Regions from separate parts of the Homo sapiens genome. Here region 2 is linked to region 1. Evidence: fine-mapped expression QTL. A gene starts in region 1. The other region holds a variant in brackets. All regions are shown on one strand. Distances are from middle to middle.

Region 1 (15,921 bases):
GAGCGGGCCAGACTGAAAATGTAACCAGGAAACAAAAACAGTCCGAAGATGATGGTAAAGAGCCTGGGCAACACAATCTGGGGCCTAGCATCAGCTATGCCTGTGGACGCTATTAAAGTGCTGAGGTTATTACTTCAGTGAATCAGAGCACAAATGAAGTATTTCTTCTCTAAGGAATCAAACACAATTCATTTTAGAACTAGACAGGAAAAGACTGAACTAAAGAAAAAGTTTTATCCTAAACTTTCCCAACAGACACCTTCTGGATAGGCTGCATGTTATCGACTGTGTCAGTCAAATCAGTGGCCTGTACTAATTGGGTAATTCAATTGAAGAGTCAAGTTTGCAAATAACAGTCTTTCCATTTTCTGTGCTTTAGAACAATTCTCAAAACACATTTATTATGCTCCCAACCCATACCTGTTCAATTAGGTTTTTCTTCTAAAAATAACTTGGATCAAGAGAATCATTTACTTTATACATATTCGAAAACAACTCATCCACTTTCTTCAGTGTTCCACGGAGGGGAAATCTGGTCCAACCAAACAGATGTAGTAAAAAGTATGTTTCCTGTTTTGGCTTCTTTGTGTTAATGACCAGGGAAAATATTTGTTGTTTTCCATGTTGGCTTCAACATAATGCATCAATATCCTTTTCTTCCTCTGAATCTTGCCCTGTTATCCAACTGAAAATAAATATACAATTAAATCAAATTTGGTACAATGTAATTAATTAAACACCCCTTACTTTGGTAAGGGTATCACCGCATGAGAGAAATAAACCAGTTATTAGCAAAATCAAAAAGGTGATGACATCAGAACTACCAAGAAAAACCACAGTAACAAAGATGGCATTGGCAGGGCACAGTGGCTCATGCCTGTAATCCCAGCACTTTGGGATGATGAGGTGGGCGGATCACAAGGTCAAGAGTTTGAGAGCAGCCTGGCCAACGTGGTGAAACCCCATCTCTACTAAAAAACACAAAAATTAGCTGGGTGTGGTGGCATGCATCTGTAATCCCAGCTACTCAGGAGGCTGAGGCGGGAGAATTGCTCGAACCTGGGAGGTGGAGGTTGCAGTGAGCCAAGATCGCACCACTGCACTCCAGCCTGGGCAATAAATAAATAAATAAATAAATAAATAAATAAGAAAGATGGCATTAAAAATAGAAGTTCCGCTTAAGGGCAATCAAGAATCCAAATTACATTTAACTGTTTATTTGGACTATACTCAATATACATTCTTCTTCTAAAAAACTTAACTTTCTAGGTTTAGGTTAATATTCAAATATATTTGAAATCTTTAAATTGCAACTGATGAGCCCTGAAAAATGTTAAGTAACACATTACTTTGGGATTAAAAATCCTTCAGGTGAATTACCACCTCACAAACTGGCAGCACGTTCTTTGACTGAAGCCTCACAGTGCAGTCATTTCTTAAGGGTAGTAGGTAGAGCAGAGGGTTCTCAAGTCAGTTTGTAAGGCAAACTTGCATAGTCAATGTCACTCCCCAAAAATTCTATATTGGGGGTCCCTAACCTCCAGGCCATAGACCTGTACCAGTCCATGGCCTGGCAGGAAGCAGGCCACACAGGTGGTCAGCAGCAGGAGAGGGAGTGTTAGGGCCTGAGCTCCACCTCCTGTCAGATCAGGGGCATTACATTCAGATCAGCAGCATTAGAGTCTCAGGAGCATGAACCCTACTGTGAACTGCACATTCAAGGGATCTAGGTGGTACGTTCCTTATGAGAATCTAATGCCTGATGACCTGAAGTGGAACAGTTTCATCCCAAAACCATCCCCTGCCCCCTTCCCCGTCCGTGGAAAGATTGTCTTCTTCCATGGAATTGGTCCCTGGTGCCAAAAATGTTGCAGACCACTATTCTATAGGAAGGAATTATTTTAGAGACAGACCCTGCCAGTTAGTCCAACAAAGTGTGGACAGACAGCCATTTATTCACTGAGCACTAGGTAAAGTAGCTAAAGCCATACTTTTAAAAAAAAATTTTAAAACACAGGAATCAGGATGGTGAACTGCTCATACTATGAGAGAACAGCAGATTCAAACTTCCCATCTCACCTTCAATAAGATGCACACTCACTTTAATAGCATACAAAATTACCCACACAATTTAAATGTTTATATTTCTGGGTTTTTTGCCAAGCATGTATAACAAGTTGCATTAACAGCGATATGACTCTACTCATTTTGGAGGACTAACAGTAAAACATGGTCTTGGAGAAAGATTATAAAAAGGTCCCTAAGCTGGTCGGGTGTTAATGGCTCATGCCTGTAATCCCAGCACTCTGGGAGGGAGAGGTGGGTGGATCAGGAGTTTGAGACCAGCCTGGCCAACATGGCGAAACCCCATCTCTACTAAAAATATAAAACTTAGCTGGGCATGGTGGCAGCTGCCTGTAGTCCCAGCTACTCGGGAGGCTGAAGCACGAGAATCACTTGAACCCAGGACGCAGAGGTTGCAGCGAGCCAAGATCACACTACTGCACTCCAGCCCGGGCAACAGAGCGAGACTCCATCTCAAAAAAAAAAAAAAAAAGGGTCCCTAAGGTGCTCTTCTCAGTGTCAAAGTATATGTGAAACTCTGCCTTGTACTGATATTTAGAAATGGTAAGATCATTTTACTTTTTATGTAAGATTGTTAAAAATTTCTGCTGAAAGTAGATAAATTGTAAAAATAAAAAAAAATCTGACTTCGTTCTTTGGAGATCGAAGACTGAGCTTTAGGTAGAGAATTTCAGAGGGTTTACTGCACACGCTTTGAAATTCTTGACAAAGTTAAAGGTTTGCATTTTACATGGGTAACAAATCTATGTGAGAGAAGGCAAGAAAATCCTCCTCTATTCACACTGAATGACAGGAAAAGATGTCACTTAAGAAAGTAAACAGAGCAGGGCCAAATTTAATCTAACTTTACACCCTCCCTGGATCTGATTAGCTGGCAAACATGCTCCAAGTTCTTTGTTTACAACCACTTGCAGGTCGTAAGTATCAGTACCCTCCATTTCTTTTGTTAACAAAAAGGAAGGGATTTGCAGTGTAGTTCCTAAGCAAACAAAAGCATGCTCAAGGCCAGGTGTGGTGGCTCACTCCTGTAATCCCAGCACTTTGGGAAGCCGAGGCAGGCAGATCACCTGAGGTCAGGAGTTCAAGACCAGCCTGGCCAACATGGTGAAATCCCATCTCTACTAAAAAAATACAAAAATTAGCTGGGCACAGTGGCAGGCGCCTGTAATCCCAGCTACTCAGGAGGCTGAGGCAGGAGAATCTCTTGAACCCAGGAGGCAGAGGTTGCAGTGATCTGAGATTGCGCCACTGCACTCCAGCCTGGTGACAAAGTGAGACTCCGTCTCAAACAAAAAACAAAAAACAAAAAAAAAACATCCTCAAGTCCAAGTGCTTTCTTCCTTTAATGGGATGCTCATATTTTTGGTTTTATACATTTCTCCAAGAAAAGGGTCTCAGTTTCCATTCCAAAGATCTCCATACATCTTCCAAATCAAAGAATGTTAGAATGAACCCCAGAGATTTGTAATCTCTTTTTAGGCCCTATTTCTACAATCCATCCCTCCAAAATTCAAACACAGATACTGACATTTTCTCTTAGTCACATAAGGCACAAATGTATACACCTTGGAGCTCCACATTATATGTTTGTATACAATTGCCAACTGATCTGAACTCGAGTGGCCAACATCAACTTTTACCCGTATATACCTGCCGAGACTTCATTCTCACACTTTCAGAAATGCATGAAGTTCAGCAGCTGTAGTTAGCACGGTGACAGAAGAACATAACAATGAGCTGTGGGTTTTTATGAACGCTACCTAACGTTAACTCACTGGAGGAAGAAATATTATCTATGTAATTTTTTCCAAACCATATCACTGCAACTTACCTATAACTATTAAGTCATTCATATATTTAACCTCCCTATAGCTAATTTTTAGCATAGGCTTTTAAAAATCTTTAACCACTTACCACTGATCTTTTACACTCAAAAAATGCGTACTTCAAAGAGTTGCAGTATCCTTCCTTCAAACACTGCCGAGGTGATTTTCCTTCCTATGACAGACACATAAAACAATATAAACACCTTGGAAATTTTCTCACAAAGTACAAAATAATTGTCCTTCTGAAAATAGTCCTTTTTAAAAGTGTTAAAGGAGGAAAATAGAAAGTTATGTAGGAAATAGTTCTTAATTCATTTGGGCTATTGGTGCCTAAAGAATGAAAAAAAAATTGTAAAGTAACTTGGGAACTTTAAGGACACTGTTGAATTCTTGAAAACACTGGTTTCTATTGGATACTTTTCCTTAAACTGTTTATATAAAAATCTAGAAAGGGTTATCTTCATTTCCTTATGGGTGAAATGTGTGAACTGGGTACCCTAAAATCAGAATATTTTTAGTGTTGGCACGAAACACTTCACAAAGATATTAACAAGGCAGGCTGGAATACTACTTAAATAGAAACATGTGGCCCATTCATGCACCAGAAAAAATATAACCCAAAGCTCATCTGCTCTGCATAATCAGGGATTTTCCCTCAAGCAGATTTTGACTCTACAGCCGCATCACTGCAGCCACTCCCCAGAACCTTTATGTTGCAAGTGCCAGGCACGCTCTGCCAGTTTTTCCTATGAAAAGCTACAGGGTACTATGTCTGTGGTATTCCTGTTCCCCAGGAGTCTTGGCCACCTTCCAGTCTGTATGTCTGCCTGGGTCCTAGATATCAAATGTCATCTACCTCAGTGACTCTCAAAAGTGGATAAGAGTAGCAGGTTTCCTTCCTCTCCAAACTCTGCAATTCTGCTGGTGGGATGTGTTGCCCACATGAACGACGTGGAGGCAGACAAAAGAAGACTAACCATATAAAAGGTTATAACTATAGTTTATAAGCTGATGCCTCTTCAAACTGTATCTAAGATGCTACCTTTTTCAAAAGCTTTCAACCTATATTGTCAACTGCCTGGGGTAAAGATCCATCTAGATACACTAAAGCTAAGAGACAGTCATTCGTTATCCACTCCACCCCAAATAACAGACTGCTAGCTGTCTGCTCTTCCTTTTTATCCAGCATATGGCTGGGTGAGATCTCCTAGACGCCCTTGCATCTAGCTGTGGTCCTGTGACTAAGTTCTAGCCACTGGAATGTGTGGGAAACAGGTGTAGAACTTCTGGGTTGGTCCTTAAAGAGGCTTGCCCCTTTCCTCACTTCACTCCATAAGGTTGCCGGGCCTGATGATGTGGAAGCAAACCAGTCTTGGACCATGAATATGAGAGTAACACCCTACTTGCTATATTTTCCTATTTTCACAGCACAGAGTCACAAGATCAACAGTGTCTGCGTTCATGGAAGACTGAGGGAAATGACTAGGCCCTGATTATAGGCACAAGGACAAAAGAGAAAGTTCTCTATCTCGTTTAAGCCACTATTATTCTGGGTCTCTGTAACATGCACTTGAATCTATATTCTAACTAATACACTCCCAAGCTTTTTTGCCTTCTGAGGTCAAGATCAGTCAGTGCTCTCAAACATGGCTGTGCCCAAAACCAACCTAGGAAAGAAACTTTTAACTTATTGGGGGTAGGGTGAGGGCAGCAGTGGAATCTGTACTTTTAAAAAGCCACACCACTTCTAGGTGATTCTGATGAAGAGTCAGTGGATCTGGAAGCTGTTAGTGGAGACGAAGATACCCTATGATGAGTGAAGTTCCTCTGGCAGAGTTTCATTGTCCTGATCATCCAGGAGTCATTAAATCCTAAGAAGTCTCTTCAAGAGATGCCTTTTGAATCTGCTTTTTCCCTGCTTTCCTCCAGCCCCACTGGAATTTACATCCTTACCATTACCCTGAGTTTCTCTGAGGCCCTCTAACTCCTTGACAGTCTCCCAAAGCAGCACCTAGAACTAAATACATGTTTATGTTGAATTCCTCCCTAGAGCGAGGTGCTGCAGGTTTCAGGTGGGTTAAAGACTGGCAAGAAGAGACTACAGCACCAACCTGCCATAGGATCAGATTAACCTTTTTATTCAAGAACTTAAGAAATCAAAAATTTCCATCATAATTAAGGTTGCCACACAGAGCAAGCACAGACCTCAGCAGAGCTTTCCTTGGTCTTTCAGAGTCCCCAGTGAGGAGCAGTGGGCAGTAGCTGCCAACAGATTGTAGGAGATTGTTCTGGACCTGCAAACCTCCTCACTATTGCCCTTTTACAATCCAGCTGAAGTCAGCATTCAGAATGAATTTAACACAAACTGTATACGAACTTCCATCTAAAGAACTGCTTATAAGCATCACGTTTTCTGGCTGACCAAACTGAGCACTGGTAAGGCCACATATTCAATGGCGGGAAAAGCAAAGTCTGTACCAGCTGTCCCAACCATAATCTCTGCCTACAGCATTCTAGCCAAACAGCTCCGCTTTCTATACTGGAGAGACCATGTTCCATTCATCAGTATTTGTTCCCTGAACTGGAGCCTGGCGCTCCGTACATGTTTGCTGTATCAACCGCTGCAGAAAGCCAGCTTGGAATTCTCTGTGCTGCTGCTATTGTCCTCCACTTGGAGTTTCTTTCCTCAGTCCTACTCAGTGTACTTTCTTCCCTTGACTACTCATCAACATGGCCTTCCGATGCTGAACGTCTGGATAAAATCCAGTCTCCTCACTCTGACACACATACAGGCCTTCACACCTGGCTGCAACCTTCCCCTCAGGCCTTCTGTCGCATTCCCCTATGGCAGGACACTAGCTCCTCTGCGCCCTCCCACATCTCCCTGCCTCTGCACTTGCTGTTCTTTCAGATTTTCCCCACAACCACAACAGTTCCCACTCCTTTACTTGATAAACTACTACTCAACTTTTAAGACTCAGCTCAAATGTCATCTCAGAAGATTCCAAATTCTGAAGCAAAATCAGACGCTCTCCCTTGGGCTAACGCATTTTTCTCCTCAAGATCTAGTCATTAAACACATGTTTAATAAATGCTTACAGTCTTATGGCAGGAATTTAGACCCTTAGATGTCTATTTCTCCCATGACACCAAGCTTACATGGGTAGTGACTGTTACTGATTCATCTTCGTTATCACCAGTGTCAGGTACCATGCCTGCCACTTAAGAGGCATTTACCAGGAGCTGGCTGAACGGCAGCACCAGTGAGTAAGGGGCAGAAGGGACACAGCCCTGGACAGGGGAGCCTGAAAACAACGGTACTTCAGTTTCCTCATTTATATAAGGAAGTTGGGCGAGATAATCTCTTAAATTTATAATAACTCAAGTTTTACTAGACATTGGGAGGCGAGAATGGCTGACTGCTAAAATCAGTGAACCAAACAAATTGTGACTCGGTAGAAACACTGGTACAGTCTTACAGTGGATGTCCATTTGGGGGTAATCTTTTCTCTGAAATAACAGCAACTTTCTGAAACTACATCCCCCAATGCAAAGACAATTGCACACAATTGAATGCCCTCTCGTCGGGCCTCTGCAATTGGAAAAGGCACTTGTGCTTTACTTGAGCTCTAATCCAGAACTCAGGTCCACTGTGAACCTCACTACATGTTTCAGTGCATTCCAAGAGGGTGCTGAGGAGACCTGTGTCTGTAGCCGGGGAGTGAAGGAAGAGTGTAGGGGAAGCAAGATACGAAATCGTGAAAATATGGAGTTGCCTTATTTTTACAACTTAACATCCAAGAATGCAGAGAACTGTAACTCAGAAACAAATTCACATCAACACAAGTCAAACTGAGCACACATTGTCACAACTGAACAGGCAGGAGACACTACTGGCCAGGGCAGTGTACCAGGTTTACGCAACTCTCTGGAATCATTAATTCTACAGATTATCATTTCTAGGCAGGCAAGAAACCTGGCTTATTCTCCTTTATGTCTCCAAAGCCTAGTAGAGTGCTAGCATTCAATAAAGGCTTCGTGAACTGAAATGGGTTAACCTTTACAAAAACCCGACAGGGTGCGTTTATCGTTATCTCCGATTTAACCCCACAGGGAACTGGGGCTCCGACAGCTCAGTGGATCTGCGCACGTTCAGTGAGCCCGAGCTGTGACCTACGCCCGGGATGGTTAACTCCAACCGCCGCCGCGGGCGACCCGCTGCCCTCCGCCGAGCCAGGCCTGCCTGGGACAGGGGTCGTCACCACCGGGAGCGCCCGGCCGCGCTACCTGGACCACACAGTCCGACTGCAGCAGACACGCGCCCAGGTCCTCCTTCAGGCCCGCGCACGCGCCGCCCTGCGGCTTGTCCTCATAATACTTAGGCATGACGGCGCTTCCCCTCCGATGCGGACGCGACTTTCTCCCACCGCAACACTTGCAACCGGGTCGGGAGCGAGCGAGGCCCCAGTCTCAGGGGACCGGAAGCCAGCGGCAACAACTTCCGGCGGGCCGCGGCGGTAGGGCCGAGGACTACGGGGGCCGAGAGGTGGCGCGTCCGCGGCGGAAGTCGGTTCCCGTGACGCGGCGCGCCCCAAGGGCCGGCTCCGTTGAGGGAAGGGAAGCCCGCCCGGTGGCGGCTGGGGTCGGCTGCTGGGAGGAGGTGGTGGGCTGGTTCGGACGTGGGTCGAGGCTGTAGCAGGACTCCAGGTGAGGCCTGAGGACCACTCTGCCCTCCCGCGGCCCGGGCTCGCGCCGGGGGCCATTTAATCCCGACAGCTTGCGGCCTGACGTCGCTGCGGCCTGGCAGTGACCATGTCGGCGTCCGGCCCCTCGGCCGGCGATAGAGTTGCGGCTAAAATGAAAGGACGCCCAGTTACATTTGCATCGTAGATAAAGAAAGAGCATTTAGTATAAGCATGTCCGAAATGTTGCGTGGGATGTAGGCATACTAAAACCTTATTCGTGGCCTGTCTGAAATCCAAATGGAGCTGGGTATTCTGTGTTTTTATTTGCTAAATCTGGCAGCCGTACCCGCGGCCCCGGGCAGGGAGGGAGCAGCTGGGCTCGGCCAGACCCTGCCGGCGTCTGGGGGGCCTGCGAAGTGGAGGGGAGACGGGCAGCCGGGCAGTGGCCGGCGTTCCCCGGAGCTCGGACCGGTTGGATTGGACTCCGACGCTACCGCTCCCTCTGCTGAACTATTCCGGATGTAAAACACTAGGGATCGGAGTTTTTCTTGGTTTTTTAATCTCATTCTAGTGACCGAGAAGCTTGCTGGCAGTGCGCTGATGGATCTGTGTGAATAGGCCATTTATTTGACCTCTTCAGTAACACTGTTCTAACCGGCTGAAACTGCTTTCTTAGGCATTTTCTTAAAAGCTTGGTGGTTAAGAGCACGGAATTTCGAGTCAGATTTCCAATCTTGGCTCTATCACTATCCTCGGAGTCATGGGGCAGTCACATCATCCCTGTCTCTGTAATGGTAGCTGCCCCTGGATAAGTGTTATTAGGTGATTCAGAAGGGTGGGCTGTTGCCCTTGCCTGAGGTTGCAGTCTGCGGTTCCCAAGCCCCAAGACCCGCCTCAGAACTAACTGCATTTGCTTTTGACTCCTGGCCTTTCTCTAGGGTTGGGAAGAACATGGAAAGTGACCTCCCTGCCAAATAACTCAGAAGAGGAGTGTCGGTAGCCAAATGTTTCTTCAGAATACGTGTAAAAGAAATGTTTTTCTTCCATCTAGGAAGATGTTACCGAGTACTTCAGTGAATTCCTTAGTGCAGGGGAACGGAGTCTTGAATTCCAGGGATGCGGCAAGACACACAGCCGGAGCGAAACGCTACAAATATCTGAGAAGGCTTTTCCGCTTTCGGCAAATGGACTTTGAATTTGCTGCCTGGCAGATGCTCTACCTGTTCACATCCCCACAGAGAGTTTACAGAAATTTTCATTATCGAAAACAGACGAAGGACCAGTGGGCCAGAGATGACCCTGCTTTCTTGGTCCTGTTAAGTATCTGGCTCTGTGGTAAGTGTGTTTATCTGAGATAGAATTGAACGCTGAGTGTTTCTGATTAGATTTTTTGTTATAAATGTGTTGTGGGTCAGAATCTGGAAATATTGGAAACTATTTCTCCTTTTTACTGAAGCCTCAAAAAATCTCACAGGAAAGAAAGTTGTAGTCTTGGTTCTACAGGTCCCAAGCAGATGCCAGAGTAAACTGTTACCCTAGGACATTGAAAAGCAGGGGACAAGATTCACTCCATATCTTTTTAAGTACTTGAATCGGTACCCAAATGTCAGCTGACTGTGAATAGGAATATGAAACTGGAAATTGCATTTCACAGGCAAATCCACAGTGAGAATTGTAAAGGTATTGATGGGAACCTGAGAAACTGAAGTTCTCCAATTCCATAATGCAAGGGTCTCATTTACCTGTAGGGTGTTGAAGTGGGTAAGATATTGAAGTTTATAGGGTGTTTTGCACCTTAACTGGACTTAAACTATGTTAGTGCCTTCTCTACACTGGCGTTCTAAATACTGAGGCCACCGTGGTGAATCAGCCTGGCAAGGGCCCACCTCAGGAAACTTCAACTCTCTCAGTGGCCACGCTGTGTCCCAAGGTAGTGTTCACACATCTTGGGAGTTTTGTTTAAAGACCTGTCTCTCCCACTAGCCTGGGCATCTGGAGGGCAAGGGATGTGTCCTGTATTTCCAGAACCTAGCAGAGTCCCTAAATGAATCTTGTGAATCTTTCTTTCAGTGTCCACTATAGGATTTGGCTTTGTGCTGGACATGGGATTCTTTGAGACAATAAAGCTTCTCCTTTGGGTTGTACTCATAGATTGTGTAGGCGTTGGTCTTCTGATAGCAACTTTAATGTGGTAAGTACCATAACTTTGGTTTTTCAGATACTGCTGTAGCATCTCCATTTGTTTGCTTCAGAGGTACAATAGCAGCAGATGGAAATTGAAACCCAGGTAGAGTTACTAAATGATCAATTTTGACTGCCAAGATTATTACAATTTTCCCTCCTGTGTTGCCACCTATATCAGAAAATACTATAAAGGCTGGTTTATAATATTGTCAAATGTAGCAAATAATTGAAATAATTATGTTTTGAACCCAAAATATCTGAGATCGGTCTCAATTTAGAAAGTTTAGTTTGCCAAAGTTAAGGACATGCCTGTGACACAGCCTTAGGAGGTCCTGATGACATGTGCCCAAGGTGGTCGGGGCACAGCTTGCTCTTATACATTTTAGGGAGACTTGAGACATCAGTCAATATGTGTAAAATGTACATTGTTTTAATCCAGAAAGTGGGGAAAGGCAGGTTACAGTTAGATAAGAGACAAATGGTTGCATTCTTTTGAGTCTTTGATCTGCCTTTCACTGAATACACAATTTACTTGTGAGAGGCAGGTACAGGAATAGTCATTTATGCCTTAATCTGGCTCAGTGAGTCTGCATTTTTACATAAACAATGGGGCAGAGGAAGCAATCAGATAAACACTTGTCTCAGGTGAGTAGAAGGAGGACTTTCTGTCCCACACCTGTAAAGATAAGCTATCTTAGGAATAAAATAGGAGGCAAGTTTGCCTGACACAGTTACCAGCTTGACTTTTCCCTTTGGCTTAGTGATTTTGGGGTCCCGAGATTTATTTTCTGCATACTAACAAAATGCCTGGTTTTGCAAAAATATTACAGATTTAGCCAGTTCTGCTTAAGTTGTCTGGATGATAGCATGGTTTTCTGCATTTGTCAATAGAGACCACTTCTTGATATTCATTGTGTTTAAATCCATTTAGATCTAAAGGGTTATTTTGTGGAGTCTTACTTTGAATCTTTGCATTAAATGAAGTATACTTGAAAAAGAAGGATTTTTTTTTTAAACTTCTCATGCCTTCCTACTGAGAATAAAATTCTCTCTCTTTCTCTCATACACACACACCCTCCGCCCCCCCCGCCCCCCCACCGCCACACACACACACGGGCTTTATCAGAAGGGTTCTCAGTCTGACTTTGGTTGATTTAGCAACAGCAGTGTACTGAGGATAAATCTGGTGTTTGGTAAAGTCCTCCTGTGTGGTTGGCATGCTGGATGAAGGGCAGGGGATGTGGCTAGCGATCTCAGTAGAGGACCAGTGGTTGGGTAGACATGGTGGTCATTGTGGAGAACATTTTAGTTGCAGAGAGACCTGGGTTCAAATGCCAACTTAGTTATCTGTGAAACTCTTAGTCCCAGTCTCTTCTTTTACAAAATCTAGTTAATTACCTATTCTGTCCAATTTTTGAGATAATTATGTTATGAAAATTACCTGACACAGTTAAGTGTTCAATATTTGGTAGTTACTAATATTTTAAGCAAAACTCTGCAACTATAACTTCTGATACCAGCCTTTTTTTTTTTTTCTTTGAGACGAAGTCCCACTCTGTCACCCAGGCTGGAGTGCAATGGTGTGATCTCAGCTCACTGCAACCTCCGCCTCCCGGGTTCAAGCGAATCTCCTGCCTCAGCCTTCTGAGTAGCTGGGATTACAGGCACACACCACCACACTTGGCTAATTTTCATACTTTTAGTAGAGACAGGGTTTTGCCATTTGGCCAGGCTGGTCTCAAACTCCTGACCTCAGGTGATCCTCCCGCCTCAGCCTCCCAAAGTGCTGGGATTACAGGCGTGAGCCACCGCGCCCAGCCAATACCACCCTTTTACAGGCATAGTTCAGATATGCTAGTTCCATTCCAGATACTGCAGTAAAGCAAATATCACAATAAACTGAGTCACACAGATGTGTTGGTTCCCAGTGCATATTAAAATCATATTTACACTGTACTGTAGTCTTTTAAGTGTACAATAGCACTATGGCTCTAAAAAACAATGTACAGACTAATTTAAAATGCTTTATTGCTTAAAAATGCTGACACAGAGACATGAAGTGGGCATATGCTGCTGGAAAAATGGCACAGGCAGACTTGCTGGACACAGTTGCCACAAACCTTCAATACGTAAAAATTTAAAAACTACAGTTTCTGTGAAGCGCAGTACAGTGCAGTGTGGTAAAATGACATATGCCTGTATTTTCCTTTGTAACTTCTGACTAGTACAGCAGAGCTTTTGTATGTGCTAGTTAGCCAATAAATGCTGTCCACTGTTAATATAAAATTCTAAAATCTGGCCTAGAATTAATACTAATGTAAGTCACGTATTCATTACCAAGAAATTCATGAAAAACAAATGGTGTGTTTTAAAATTTCAATAAATAAGACTTTCAAAGGAATAGTTTCATTCATAACAAGCATTCTGCCCTGAATGCAGTAATTCTGGAGGCCACTGTCTTAGTCTGTTCTCAATGCTGCTATAAAGAAATATCTGAGACTGGGTAATTTATAAAGGAAAAAGGTTTAATTGACTCACAGTTCTGCATTGCTAGGTAGGCCTCAGGAAACTTATAATCATGGCAGAAGGCAAAGGAGAAGCAGGCACCTTCCTCACAGGGTGGCGGGATGGAGTGAGTACAAGTGGGGGAAATGCCAAATGCTTATAAAACCATCAGATCTTGTGAGACTCACTGACTATCACGAGAACAGCATGGGGGAAATTACGTCCATCTGGCCCCACCCTTGACACGTGGGGATTCTGGGGATTGCTGTTCAAGATGAGATTTTGGGGACACAGCCAAACAATATCAGGCACAGAAGGGGACCAAATCAGCCTGGAGTTTAGCACATTTCATGTGAGTCTGTATCATAGTTTGAATTAAATAGAAAGGGATTCAGTGTATTTTTGAGAACCTATGTTGTGTGAGGAACTAGAAAGAGAAATGACTACATGTAATGATGACCATCACAGAGGAGCTACAGAAGCCAGCATAAGGTGGTGGTTTGTGGAGATGGGGAATAGTTGACTCCTGGTGCTGGGAATTGCAAGTGCAATGGCATAGAGGTGTGAACAGCACACTAGGTCTGGGAGCATAGGGTGACACCGAGTCACTGGGGAAGAGATGTGACTAGAGAAATTGGCCTTCATGCCATTCAGGAAAAAAATTGGACTTTATCTCATAGACTGCATGTGTGGGTTGGGGGCAAAAGGAGGTGGGGAGCTTTGAGGCTTTAAAGTAAGGAAATAATGTCAAACTCACACTATCTTTTCCATGGCAGTGGAGGAGGCAAAAGTTGGAGTAGTGAGTGGGCAAGGCTGGATACACTTGCAGAGGTCTGCGTAGGAGTAGAGGAGGCCCAGATAGTATGGTGGTGATAGGAATAGAGAGGAGAGATGGATTCGAGAGCTTCCTGAGATAACAAGGTATGAGGGGGGATCAGGAAGAGGGAGTGGGTGGGAGGCTCCTTTGGGATGACCTGTAAGATTTTGGCTTAGATGACTGAGGAAGCAGCAGATGCAGATGAAGCAGCCCTTGCTGGCCTGTTGAGTTCAGGGAGCTTCCTGAAGAGTGAAAAGAAGGTCAGTAGACACTGAGGTTGATGACTCTAGACCTAGAGGCAAGAGTCTGGGCCATGATGAGCCTCTGACTGGCGTTAATATGGAGCTGGGAGGTGAAAACCACAGTGCCTTGGAGTGCTCTCGGAAGGCACATCTGTCTTTCAGAGGAAAGACTCTCACTGAGGCCAGAAGCTTGAAAAGCGCCCATTTGGGATAAGCGGGAGAATAGGGGCAGCAGAGAACGTCTACAGAAAGGGCGCTCTTGGGGAGCGAGCTACATACTGATTCCATAAAATTTGAATGGCACACATTCTTGGCTAAAAAGGAAACTGTCTTGGTAAGCTCTAGTTTGTTCAGTATTGTTTTGGCATTTTCAGATAACGAAATGCAGGGACTGTTAACATTAGTATTGTACCTCTGTTTATTTTCCATTTTTATCCCCAGTGACGGAATAGCGTATTCTTAATTGTACCCTTGAGATGAAATGAAATAATACATTAAAAAATACATTGAATTTCCAATATATGTTTATAATACAAGTTTTGTTCTTTGAAGATCTTACTTTTCTGTTACTTGGATATTTTACTTTTTATTCATCATTGAACTGAAAAACTAGTAGGCCATGTTGTAGAACAGTGACATACACTTGAATAATTGTTCTTATGGCTGGATGCGTCACTCTTCCTAACTGCTTCTTACTATTTCATCCTCCTTTTAATAGGGGGTTGACCCAGGTCTTGGGCCTTGGGCCTGTTCATTATCCACATTCATTTTTTTGGTGACATCATTCAGGCCCGTGGCTTTAAATATTAATATCATCTACACACTGATGAGTTTATATTTCCAGTTTGGACTTGTCTTCTAAACTCTAGACATTGTATACAACTTCTTACTCCATACTAGTTGGCATCTTCAACATAACAGGTCCAAATTCAAACTTCCGCACACTCCTTCCCACCTCAAAACCACTCTTCCCACAGCCAGCCCCACCTCAATTAAAGGCAGCTCCATCTTCCATTTGTTCAAGGCAGAAATCTCTCAGTCATCCTTGAGTATTTTTTTCTCATACTCCAATCCAATAATGTCAGGAGCTCTACCTTCAGAGTATCGTGTGTGCCACATCTTAGCACCTCCACTGCCACCAGCCCCTCTGCTCATCTCTTCCTTGCAGTAGCCTTCTAACTGGTCTCTGCTGCCAGTCTTGTCTCTGGAGTCTGTTCTCAGATCCGCCACCAGGGAGGCTCTGTCAAGGCATTTAAGTCAAATACTTTTCTCAGAACTCCACAGTGGCTTCTCACGTCACCAGGAATAAAAGCCAAAGATTGTAAAACGGCCACAGGCTTCGTAAGACATGGAGCCTGTGTGACTTGATGTTGGGCCCAACCCTGTTTCTTTTCTGGCTTCATTTCTTGCTCCTTTTCTTTCAGACACTGGTCTTTTCACCATTCCTCAGGCCTGCCAGGCACCATCACTATCCTTGGGTCTTTACCCAAATGTTACTTTATGACCCTCATATGTACAATTGCATCTCAAGTTTGTATTCTCCACATTTCTCTGCTGCTTTCTCTCTTTCCATAATA
Region 2 (8,000 bases), 74 kb before region 1:
AGAGAGCTGGAAAGAGGAGTAGCAGCAAGCCAGAAGCAACAGAAGAATTCTTTCCAGAGGGAAGAATGGACTTAAGACTCAAGAATATTCCAGCTGCCAGGCATCTCCTTATGAGACTAACAAATTCTAAGGAGAAAGAAAATCTTTTTCTAGATAAATAACAAACATCAAATCTACCATAAGGACAACTAGAAAAAGTGAAAAAAAAAAAAAAATCTGAACTACCTGGTCCATGCTACCAGAGAACTGATAGGACAATAAAGAATCTGAGAGCAGAGGCTCACTTATTCCCTTGAGGGCTTACAGTGGTTCCCAAGAGAAAGGCCAAGAGAAAGGATTAGATGGATTAGACACTAAGTGTCTAAAGACACTTAGTGCTTTAGACAGTGTCTCAGTGAGAAGTGGCAGGGATTGCTTTCTAGGGTCCGTTAGGGGAAGGATACTTGTTGAAACCCCTCTCACTTTGATCTAGAATCCAAAAGGCTAAATCTAAACCTCTAGAGTAAAGGAACCAGAAGCAGGTGTTCATAGGGACTACAGGTTCATTAAGTTTCTGAAAGTAAATGAAAATATTTTAGAGTGCTAGTGCTCCTTGGAACCTTGCAGAAGTAGTTACAAATCTTGTCTGGAGAAAGCACCATCCTAGACCTCAAATAATTTCTACAAGCAATTCTTAAAATATAGTGTTCAGCATAAAATCATGAATTCTCAGAAACATGAGGAGATAAGAAATATGAACAGAAACAATAAACATAGAAATAGATCCAAAGGGGCTGTATATATTAGAGTTAAGAGACAGACACTAAAATAACTGTTATTGACTATATGTCTTAGTTAATAGGGGCTGCTATAGCAGAATATTGTAGACTGGGTGACTTAAAAAATAGAAATTTATTGCTCACAGTTCTGGAACCTGAGAAGTGCAAGATAAAGATGCTAGGATATCTGTTGTCTGATGGGGGCCAGCTTCCTGGTTTGCAGATGGACGTCGTCTTGTTGTGTTCTCACATGGCAGAGAGCAGAGCAGAGGAAGCAAGCTCTTGTGTCTCTTCTTTTAAAGGCACTAATCCCATTCATGAAGACTCTACCCTCATGACTTAATCACCTCTGAAAGGCCCCACCCCTAATACCATCACATTGGGATATAAGATTTCAACACATAAATTTTGGGGTTTGTGTCAGAGGACAGACCTACTTAAAGAAACTTTAGGGGGACACAAACATTCAGTCATAACACTAGGTAAAGAAGAATAAGGACATTATTGAACATTTTCAGAGAACTAGAAACCATGAAAAGAACCAAATAGATATTCTAGAATTAAAAGAAAAATTTCAAGAAGCAAATTTACAAAATGAAGCCAGAGCAATAAAAATAATGGAAAAAAAAATCAGAGGAGAGTAAAAACAGCATAGTGAGAGGTCTAATGTTACATTTATTTTGTATCTTTAAGAAGGAACACAGAAAAGGGTCAGAAGCAATATTTATAGTTGAGCATTTCTCCCAAAGTAATACAACAATTCGCAGAACAAATAAAAACAAATGTACCTAGGCACATCATAATAAAACTACTGAAAGCCATACTCAGTGGGAAAATTATAAAAGCTACCAGAAAACACAACACTTAAAGTAGCAACAACTAGACCGACCGCTGACTTCATAACAGAAAAAACAGAGGCCTAGGCACAATATATTTAAAGGGCTTAGAGAAAATGACTACTTAGAGAACATTTCCTTCAAGAAGTAAGGTGGAATAAAGACATTTTCAAACCTTAAAAGCTGAAAGAATGTCAGCACCACACTTACAGTATAAACAGTGCTAAGAGATGTTCCTAAGTAGAAGGCTGATGATTCCAGATGGACGTTCACCAATAGAGAAAGCATTGAAAATTCAAAGACATAAGATTTGGGGTAAACATCTGGGTTATAGCTGCATGAATAGCAACTATAGAAAAACACACACACAAATGTGTATGCTAACAAAGGAGAGACCTGATATGGCAATCTTAATGTCAGAAAAAGTGTAATTAGAACCCAAAAGAGCAGATCGAGCTGTGAACAGTGGTTAGTTAGATCACCACAGGTCCTTTCAAAGGATGGAGATAGCCAGTAACTTACTCTGAATGAACATGACAAAGATATCTTCCCAGGTAAACTCTCCTCAAAACATGCCAAGGTATTGCTCTCCCCCACCCTTCCAAATTCATATCTCCTCCTTCCCTCTTTGTATTTTTCAGTCTTTTAATCTCTCCTTTTTTCTCCCTGTTCTTTCTTTCATTTTTGTTAGTGTCTTCCTTCATCCCATCACTCCTCCTCTCTCTGAATTTCCTGTGCATTTGTCTCACCTGTTGTGGACACAATAACATATTTTTAAATTGGAGTTAATACTTTTTTCTATTTTATTTTAAAATTGCGATAAAATGTACATAAAATTTATTATTTTAACCATTTTTAAGTATACAGTTTGGTGGCATTAAGTATAGTCGTGTGTCATTTAATGGTGGGGCTACGTTCTGTCAAATGTGTCATTAGGTGATTTCATCCTTGTGTGAACATGATAGAGTGTACTAACAGGATCCCAGATGGCACAGCTTCCTAGGCACCTAGGCTACATGTATAGCCTGTTATTCCTAGGCTACCAACCTGGACAGCTACTGTACTAAATATTATAGGCAATTGTAACACAATGGTAAGTATTTGTGTGTCTAAACATAGAAAAGGTAATGTGTTTGTTCTGGGACGTTAGGATGGCTATGACATCCCTAGGCAATAGGAATTTTTCAGCTCCATTATAATCTGTGAGACCATTGTCATATATGTGGTTTATCATTGACTGTAAATGAACAATGGCTCACTTAAGAAAAAAAAAAGAGCTTTGTTTACTTTGCCATAGAATTCTAATTTTCTTCCAGCATCCATCCATCCACCTGCCAAGACACGTGGAGCACCATATGCTCAGAGTCAGCCACAGCAGTCACAGGATGCAAGCATGGGTAGCTCTGTCTTAGATTTCGTAGACTCTGTGGCTCCTTCACTCAATTGGTTAGAGTTGGAATAGTTACCGAGGTCGGACTTGAAGGGTTGGACCTATATGAGATTTCTGGCTTTGTGTTCCACTCCATGGACATGGGAAGCCCCCGTCAGCGCAGCCTTTCACTGAAGTTATGACATTGCTGTCTTGGAGGGTGGCGGGGAGGGGGCGTGAAAAGAGATTGTTTCAAATTTAAAAAATCACTTCCCTGTGACAACTGACGATGTGATCGTCTCATCTCTTTGAATGTCATTTACTCTTTGTGCTTTCTTTGAATGTGTTTGGAACAGAAAACTAATCAGAGTCTGGTTTTAAAGGATTCATTTCTTTCCCGTGTTGATTCTGTAGCTTGCAGTGAGCTGCATACTCCATCGCTAGATCGAAAGCCAAATAGTTTTGTTGCGGTGAGTGTCACCACCCCTCCTCAGGCATTCTGGACGAAGCATGCACAGACGGAGATCATTGAGGTGGGTGCTGGTGGTCTCTCTCTGAGGGGCTGTGGGACATGCTCTAGTGGTGTCTCTTGTCCTGATGTTCAGTTACTTGTGCATCTGTAGCTGAAGCTGTATTTACGTGAGTTGTTGCTATTTTCCCATGGGTTTTCAGTACATTGATATTTTTCATCACATTTACTCATCTGGGTGGCATTTATATTGCCATATCCTTTACAGTTATTGATTAACTGTTGGCAGCTTGTTTTTGAACAATGATCCTGTAAGCTTCATTGCCTTGTAAGAGGTAAGACCTAATTCCTTCTTGTCACCTCCAATTGGCTGCTACTTTGCAAGAGTGGTGCTCATTAATCAAAGCTTAGAAGAGTATTAACTATTTACCACCCTCTTGTCCAGACATACCCCTATTTTTGTTGGTTTTTGTTTTTACAGCCTTTTGAGTTTTGTGTCACATGTTAACTTTTCCCACTAAGTTACATGATAAACATTTGTGGATAAACATTTATGGATGATCCTTTTAGATCATCAAGCACATTACATAACACTAAGTGTAGGAGTTGGTGGCATGAGATTCTGCAGAGTTTTATTTGTAAAGTGAAGAATTATCAAACTTAAACTGCATTTCTTCTTCTTCACCAGTTGTGCATTTTGGAAGCTAGCCCACCCTTTCAGTCTCTTAGAAACTTATTTCCAAGTTCACGTCAACAATTCTGCTTTCTAAGCAGTTGTCGAGTGCTACCTACACATCTAGCATAGTGCCAGGCACTGTGGATGATACAGAGCCCACCAGGGCACAGTCCCTGCCCTGAGGAATTGACCAGCTGGTGGGTGGGGAGGCAGAAATGAATATGGCTACCCGTGTGCACAGCAGAGTATGGGAAGTATTGGAGTAGGAAGGTAAGGAGAGCACCAGGAGGCTGGGATCCTATCTGGCTGTGAGAGTCAGAGCAGGCTTCCTAGGGTGGGGCTTCATGAAATTCTACTTCAGTATGTCTGGGGTAGGGCCCAAGACTGCATTTCTTACAAGCTCCCAAGTGATGCCCAGGTAGCCAGTCGGGGGACTCCACATGAAGAGCACGCCAAAGTTCTGTTGTGGCTATGCAAATGTGTGACCACAGGGAAGGATCATGCAGGTTTGGGGTCTAACTGTATCCTGGTCAGTGTGTGAAAGGCACAAGTAGGAGAGCAAGGAAAGAAAGCCTTGAAGGCCGTGGAGTTTATCAGCAGATGGTAGTGAGCCAGTGTAGGCTTCTGTGCAGGGGAGTCACCTGACCAGATGTCCTAACTTGTATAGGACAGGCATTTGGGGGAGTGAGAGTTGGAGGGAGTGGAAAGAAAGGAGCGTATGACAGAGACTTTGAAGGTGGACCTTGCAAGGGGAGTTCATGATCACTGGATGGTTGAGAACAACAGAGAAGAAGGCACCAAAGTGAATGCCCGGGCTTTTAGCCTGCTTGGAAAGGGAGTCAGAGGTGGCCTTAGCCAAGGGC[A/G]GGTGGAGGGAGAGATGAGTTGGTTGAGGCCCCAGCAGCCCACCCAGGTGGAGCTGTCCAGTCAGCTTGACCACCTGGATCTGGATCTCCAGAGAGAAAAAGGAGCCAGAGGCCCAGGGAATGGTGGCTGTGATAATTACCTGGTGCCTGAGAGAGTATGGTATTACGGGGCTTTGGAGGACATGGCCAGGCTGCCAGGAAATAGTCACCTATGATCAAAAAACTAGTAGCTGATCCTAAAAAAAGGATAGCTTTTGAAAAGTCAGGCTTTAATTATTCCAAACACAGGCTTCTAGAAATACATAATAAACCACTTAAGCCATTCATTTTCTCTCTTTCATCTGCTTATTTGTACCTCTTAAAGGAATAACTCAAAGTAGTAGGTTTACATACACATTACACTTTAAGTTATAAAACTAAGAATGCATGTGGACATCCAACTTGTTTCAGTTTTTAAAAATTCCTCCTGTTGAGTGTGAAACCCATGAAATGAGTCCTCAGGCACAGCTTGTGTAATGGGCTGATTTATTGTATGTGGATCTGTAATGGTCTATGTCAGACTTCTTTTTTCTCTTTTAAAAAGCAGAGTTTTTTTGTTTGTTTGTTTTATGTATTTATTTAAGCCGCCTTTAGCATTTGTGTTGATTCAAGGCAGTGAGAATGTTAGTTTCTCATTCTGAAAATGTTGGTGTATTTCAAAAGCAATTACATTTTAAAAATCCAACCCTGTGTTCTGATTATTTCCTTTTCTGTTCTAGGGAACCAACAATCCTATATTTCTAAGCAGTATTGCCTTCTTTCAAGACTCTCTTATCAATCAGATGACACAAGTCAAACTCTCCGTGTATGATGTCAAAGATAGATCTCAGGGAACAGTTAAGTAATGTGTTGTAGTTCGTGGGATTTTCTTCCCTTTGAAAAAATTATATAATCGTTTGAATGAGAGATGAACACAGATTGACTTCACTACTGGCTCACAAGTTAACTCATGTCTAAATGCATTTGTCTTTGCGAATTGTTAAGCTTTCCCATTGGGCTTCTGACATAAGGGTAAGAGGTGTTGTGGGAAGCAGTCAGCTGGACTCTCTGGGGCCATGGTAATTGCATCAGAAGCAAAGCAAGCGCACCAATGCTGCCTCTCTTCCTTCTCTTCCTCAGATGTATTTACTGGGCTCTGGAACGTTCATTGTCAAAGATCTGCTCCAGGACAGGCATCATAGGTTGCATTTAACACTAAGGTTGGTATTCAGTTTTATTCCCTTGAAAGGATCTGGAATCATGAGGTCCAGGGACAGATGGGGAAAGGACCCACTTCTTATACTGAGAGAGCACCCTTCCCTTCCCAGAAGCCAGTCAGCGTGGGGACACTGTGTTGTCTATTGAGGCGAAACAAATTACTTAGCCTATCAGAGAATGGAAACTTTTAGCATCCATAGGAGATATGAGCACAGCTGTACCAAGCCCTAAAGGAAGGCCTAGATACATATCTAGTAATACTAAGTGTGTTTCTCCATTATTTAGCCCCTCCCCAGTGGAATATAATCTCCCATAGAGCAGGGAGTTTTGTCTGCTTTGCTTCACTGCTATTTCCCAGACACCTAGAATGTGTCTGGTGCTCAATAAATATTTATGGAAGGAATGAGTGAATGAAAGGGAAACGCCCACTGTCTCCCAGGATGGAAAGATGAAAGACATCAGGATGTCAGTCCTTCCAAATCATTTTAGGGGCACTTCCCACCAAAACCCTGACATGGTGGTCTTTTTTCAGAAAAAGGTAAAAATTGGAGAACTGTGATCTGGGAAAGTAATCTAGAGTAGCAAGGAAAATTTGACAAACAATTAAGTCCCTGCAGTATTGAGACATTCTGAAGCTACTATAAGTAAAGACAGTATTGCAGGCATTGGCTGTCTAATCAGTGGACAGGATCAGAGCCCTGCAGCAGCCCTTAGTTTGTTTAGAGAACTTGATTCAGGAAAAAGGAACCATCTTTGGTAAAATGAGAGGGATCATGTAAGGGAAAGGGCTTTGAGAAAAATATTTAGTTACGTCATGTGTCAGAGTTAACTCTAGTTGGGTTAGAGTTAAATGTACAAAATAGACATCATTCTTTTTAAAGGAGCTAAAGGCGGCTGATGATTGAACAGATAGAGCAGGAAAGGACTTCACAGGCACGAGGACAGGGCAAGGAAATCACAAAGGAAATGGTCAGTAGATGGGACCAGACAAAAATTTAGAACCTGATTAAGTGAGACCTTGTAAATAGAAAGCCTGAAGTTCCAGGGTGTCCCCAGGTTCCCTGGATGAATCAGATGAGCCCAGGCCACCATCAGCCACCCTTCGGGATGTCAGGGTAAAGCTGACTGAGGCTGGGGTAGCATCAGCTGTGTCATATCAGGATTCAAGGGCTTCAGGAAGCCCTGGCTGGATTCCATTACTTGGAGTCCAGGCTTAGGCCTTGGGCTAATATAAGCCTCAAGGTGGGGTGGGAAGGAACAGAAAAGGGCCCAGGGCCAGAACAAGGTGTTCTGTAGTCCTCACTCTGACACGTGTCCCCCTCACCCTCTGGGCAGGGGTGAGCACAGGCACTGGCAGCAGCTCAGGAACAGCATTGGCTCCTCCTCAGGGAGGCCCCCTCTGACTTCACCAGCACGTCCACACTTCCCTGTGGTGCGTGTCCGTTCAGACACAGCCCTCCACTGTGCCCCATGGTTTCCTTGTCTGTCTCGCCTGAGAGGAGCCCTGTGTGCACAGTGAATGCTGACTGACTGGTCAGTCAGCTCGGCCCTGCTGCCCCCAGGACCCTGATGACCCAGTACGGCTAGGGCTTTGTATTTCAGCAGAAAAGAAGCACAGTTGCAGCACCACTCATTAAAGCATGTTGTGCATCACAGGTCTGCAGAGAGTGACCGTGTAGGTAACATCACCGTGATTGGCTGGCAGATGGAGGAGAAGTCAGACCAACGGCCCCCTGTGACCCGGTCTGTGGACACTGTCAATGGGAGGGTGAGTTACACCACTTTCCTCCTCT

Alleles and levels. Alleles are on the strand shown, and positions count from the first base shown. SD is a standard deviation of normalised expression in the study named.
As copies of A replace G in region 2, the expression in anterior cingulate cortex of the gene that starts at base 8,404 in region 1 goes down (small effect, 0.33 SD a copy in GTEx).

Evidence for each region. PIP is the estimated chance that this variant, and not a neighbour inherited with it, causes the effect. A credible set is the group of variants that fine-mapping cannot tell apart.
Region 2: its variant is the best candidate, but not a certain one, in a credible set for the expression of COA5 in anterior cingulate cortex (GTEx, PIP 0.51).

Annotation. Positions count from the first base shown.
Region 1 is chr2:98,600,109-98,616,029 of GRCh38, forward strand. COA5 (cytochrome c oxidase assembly factor 5) reads right to left here and starts at 8,404. Exons shown (of 3, transcript NM_001008215.3): 1 at 8,199-8,404; 2 at 4,000-4,083; 3 at 1-685. The coding sequence starts at 8,297. The coding sequence ends at 644. It overlaps UNC50 (unc-50 inner nuclear membrane RNA binding protein), which reads left to right and starts at 8,481. Exons shown (of 6, transcript NM_014044.7): 1 at 8,481-8,618; 2 at 9,648-9,931; 3 at 10,667-10,787. The coding sequence starts at 9,652. RefSeq lists enhancers at 1,376-1,545, 7,556-8,545 and a silencer at 8,609-8,708.
Region 2 is chr2:98,530,000-98,537,999 of GRCh38, forward strand. INPP4A (inositol polyphosphate-4-phosphatase type I A) reads left to right here. Exons shown (of 25, transcript NM_001134225.2): 5 at 3,378-3,496; 6 at 5,730-5,846; 7 at 6,130-6,209; 8 at 7,864-7,975. Among named protein-coding and RNA genes, the nearest start is that of COA5, 75 kb to the right of the region's middle. The variant A/G (reference allele first, on the strand shown) is at 4,972.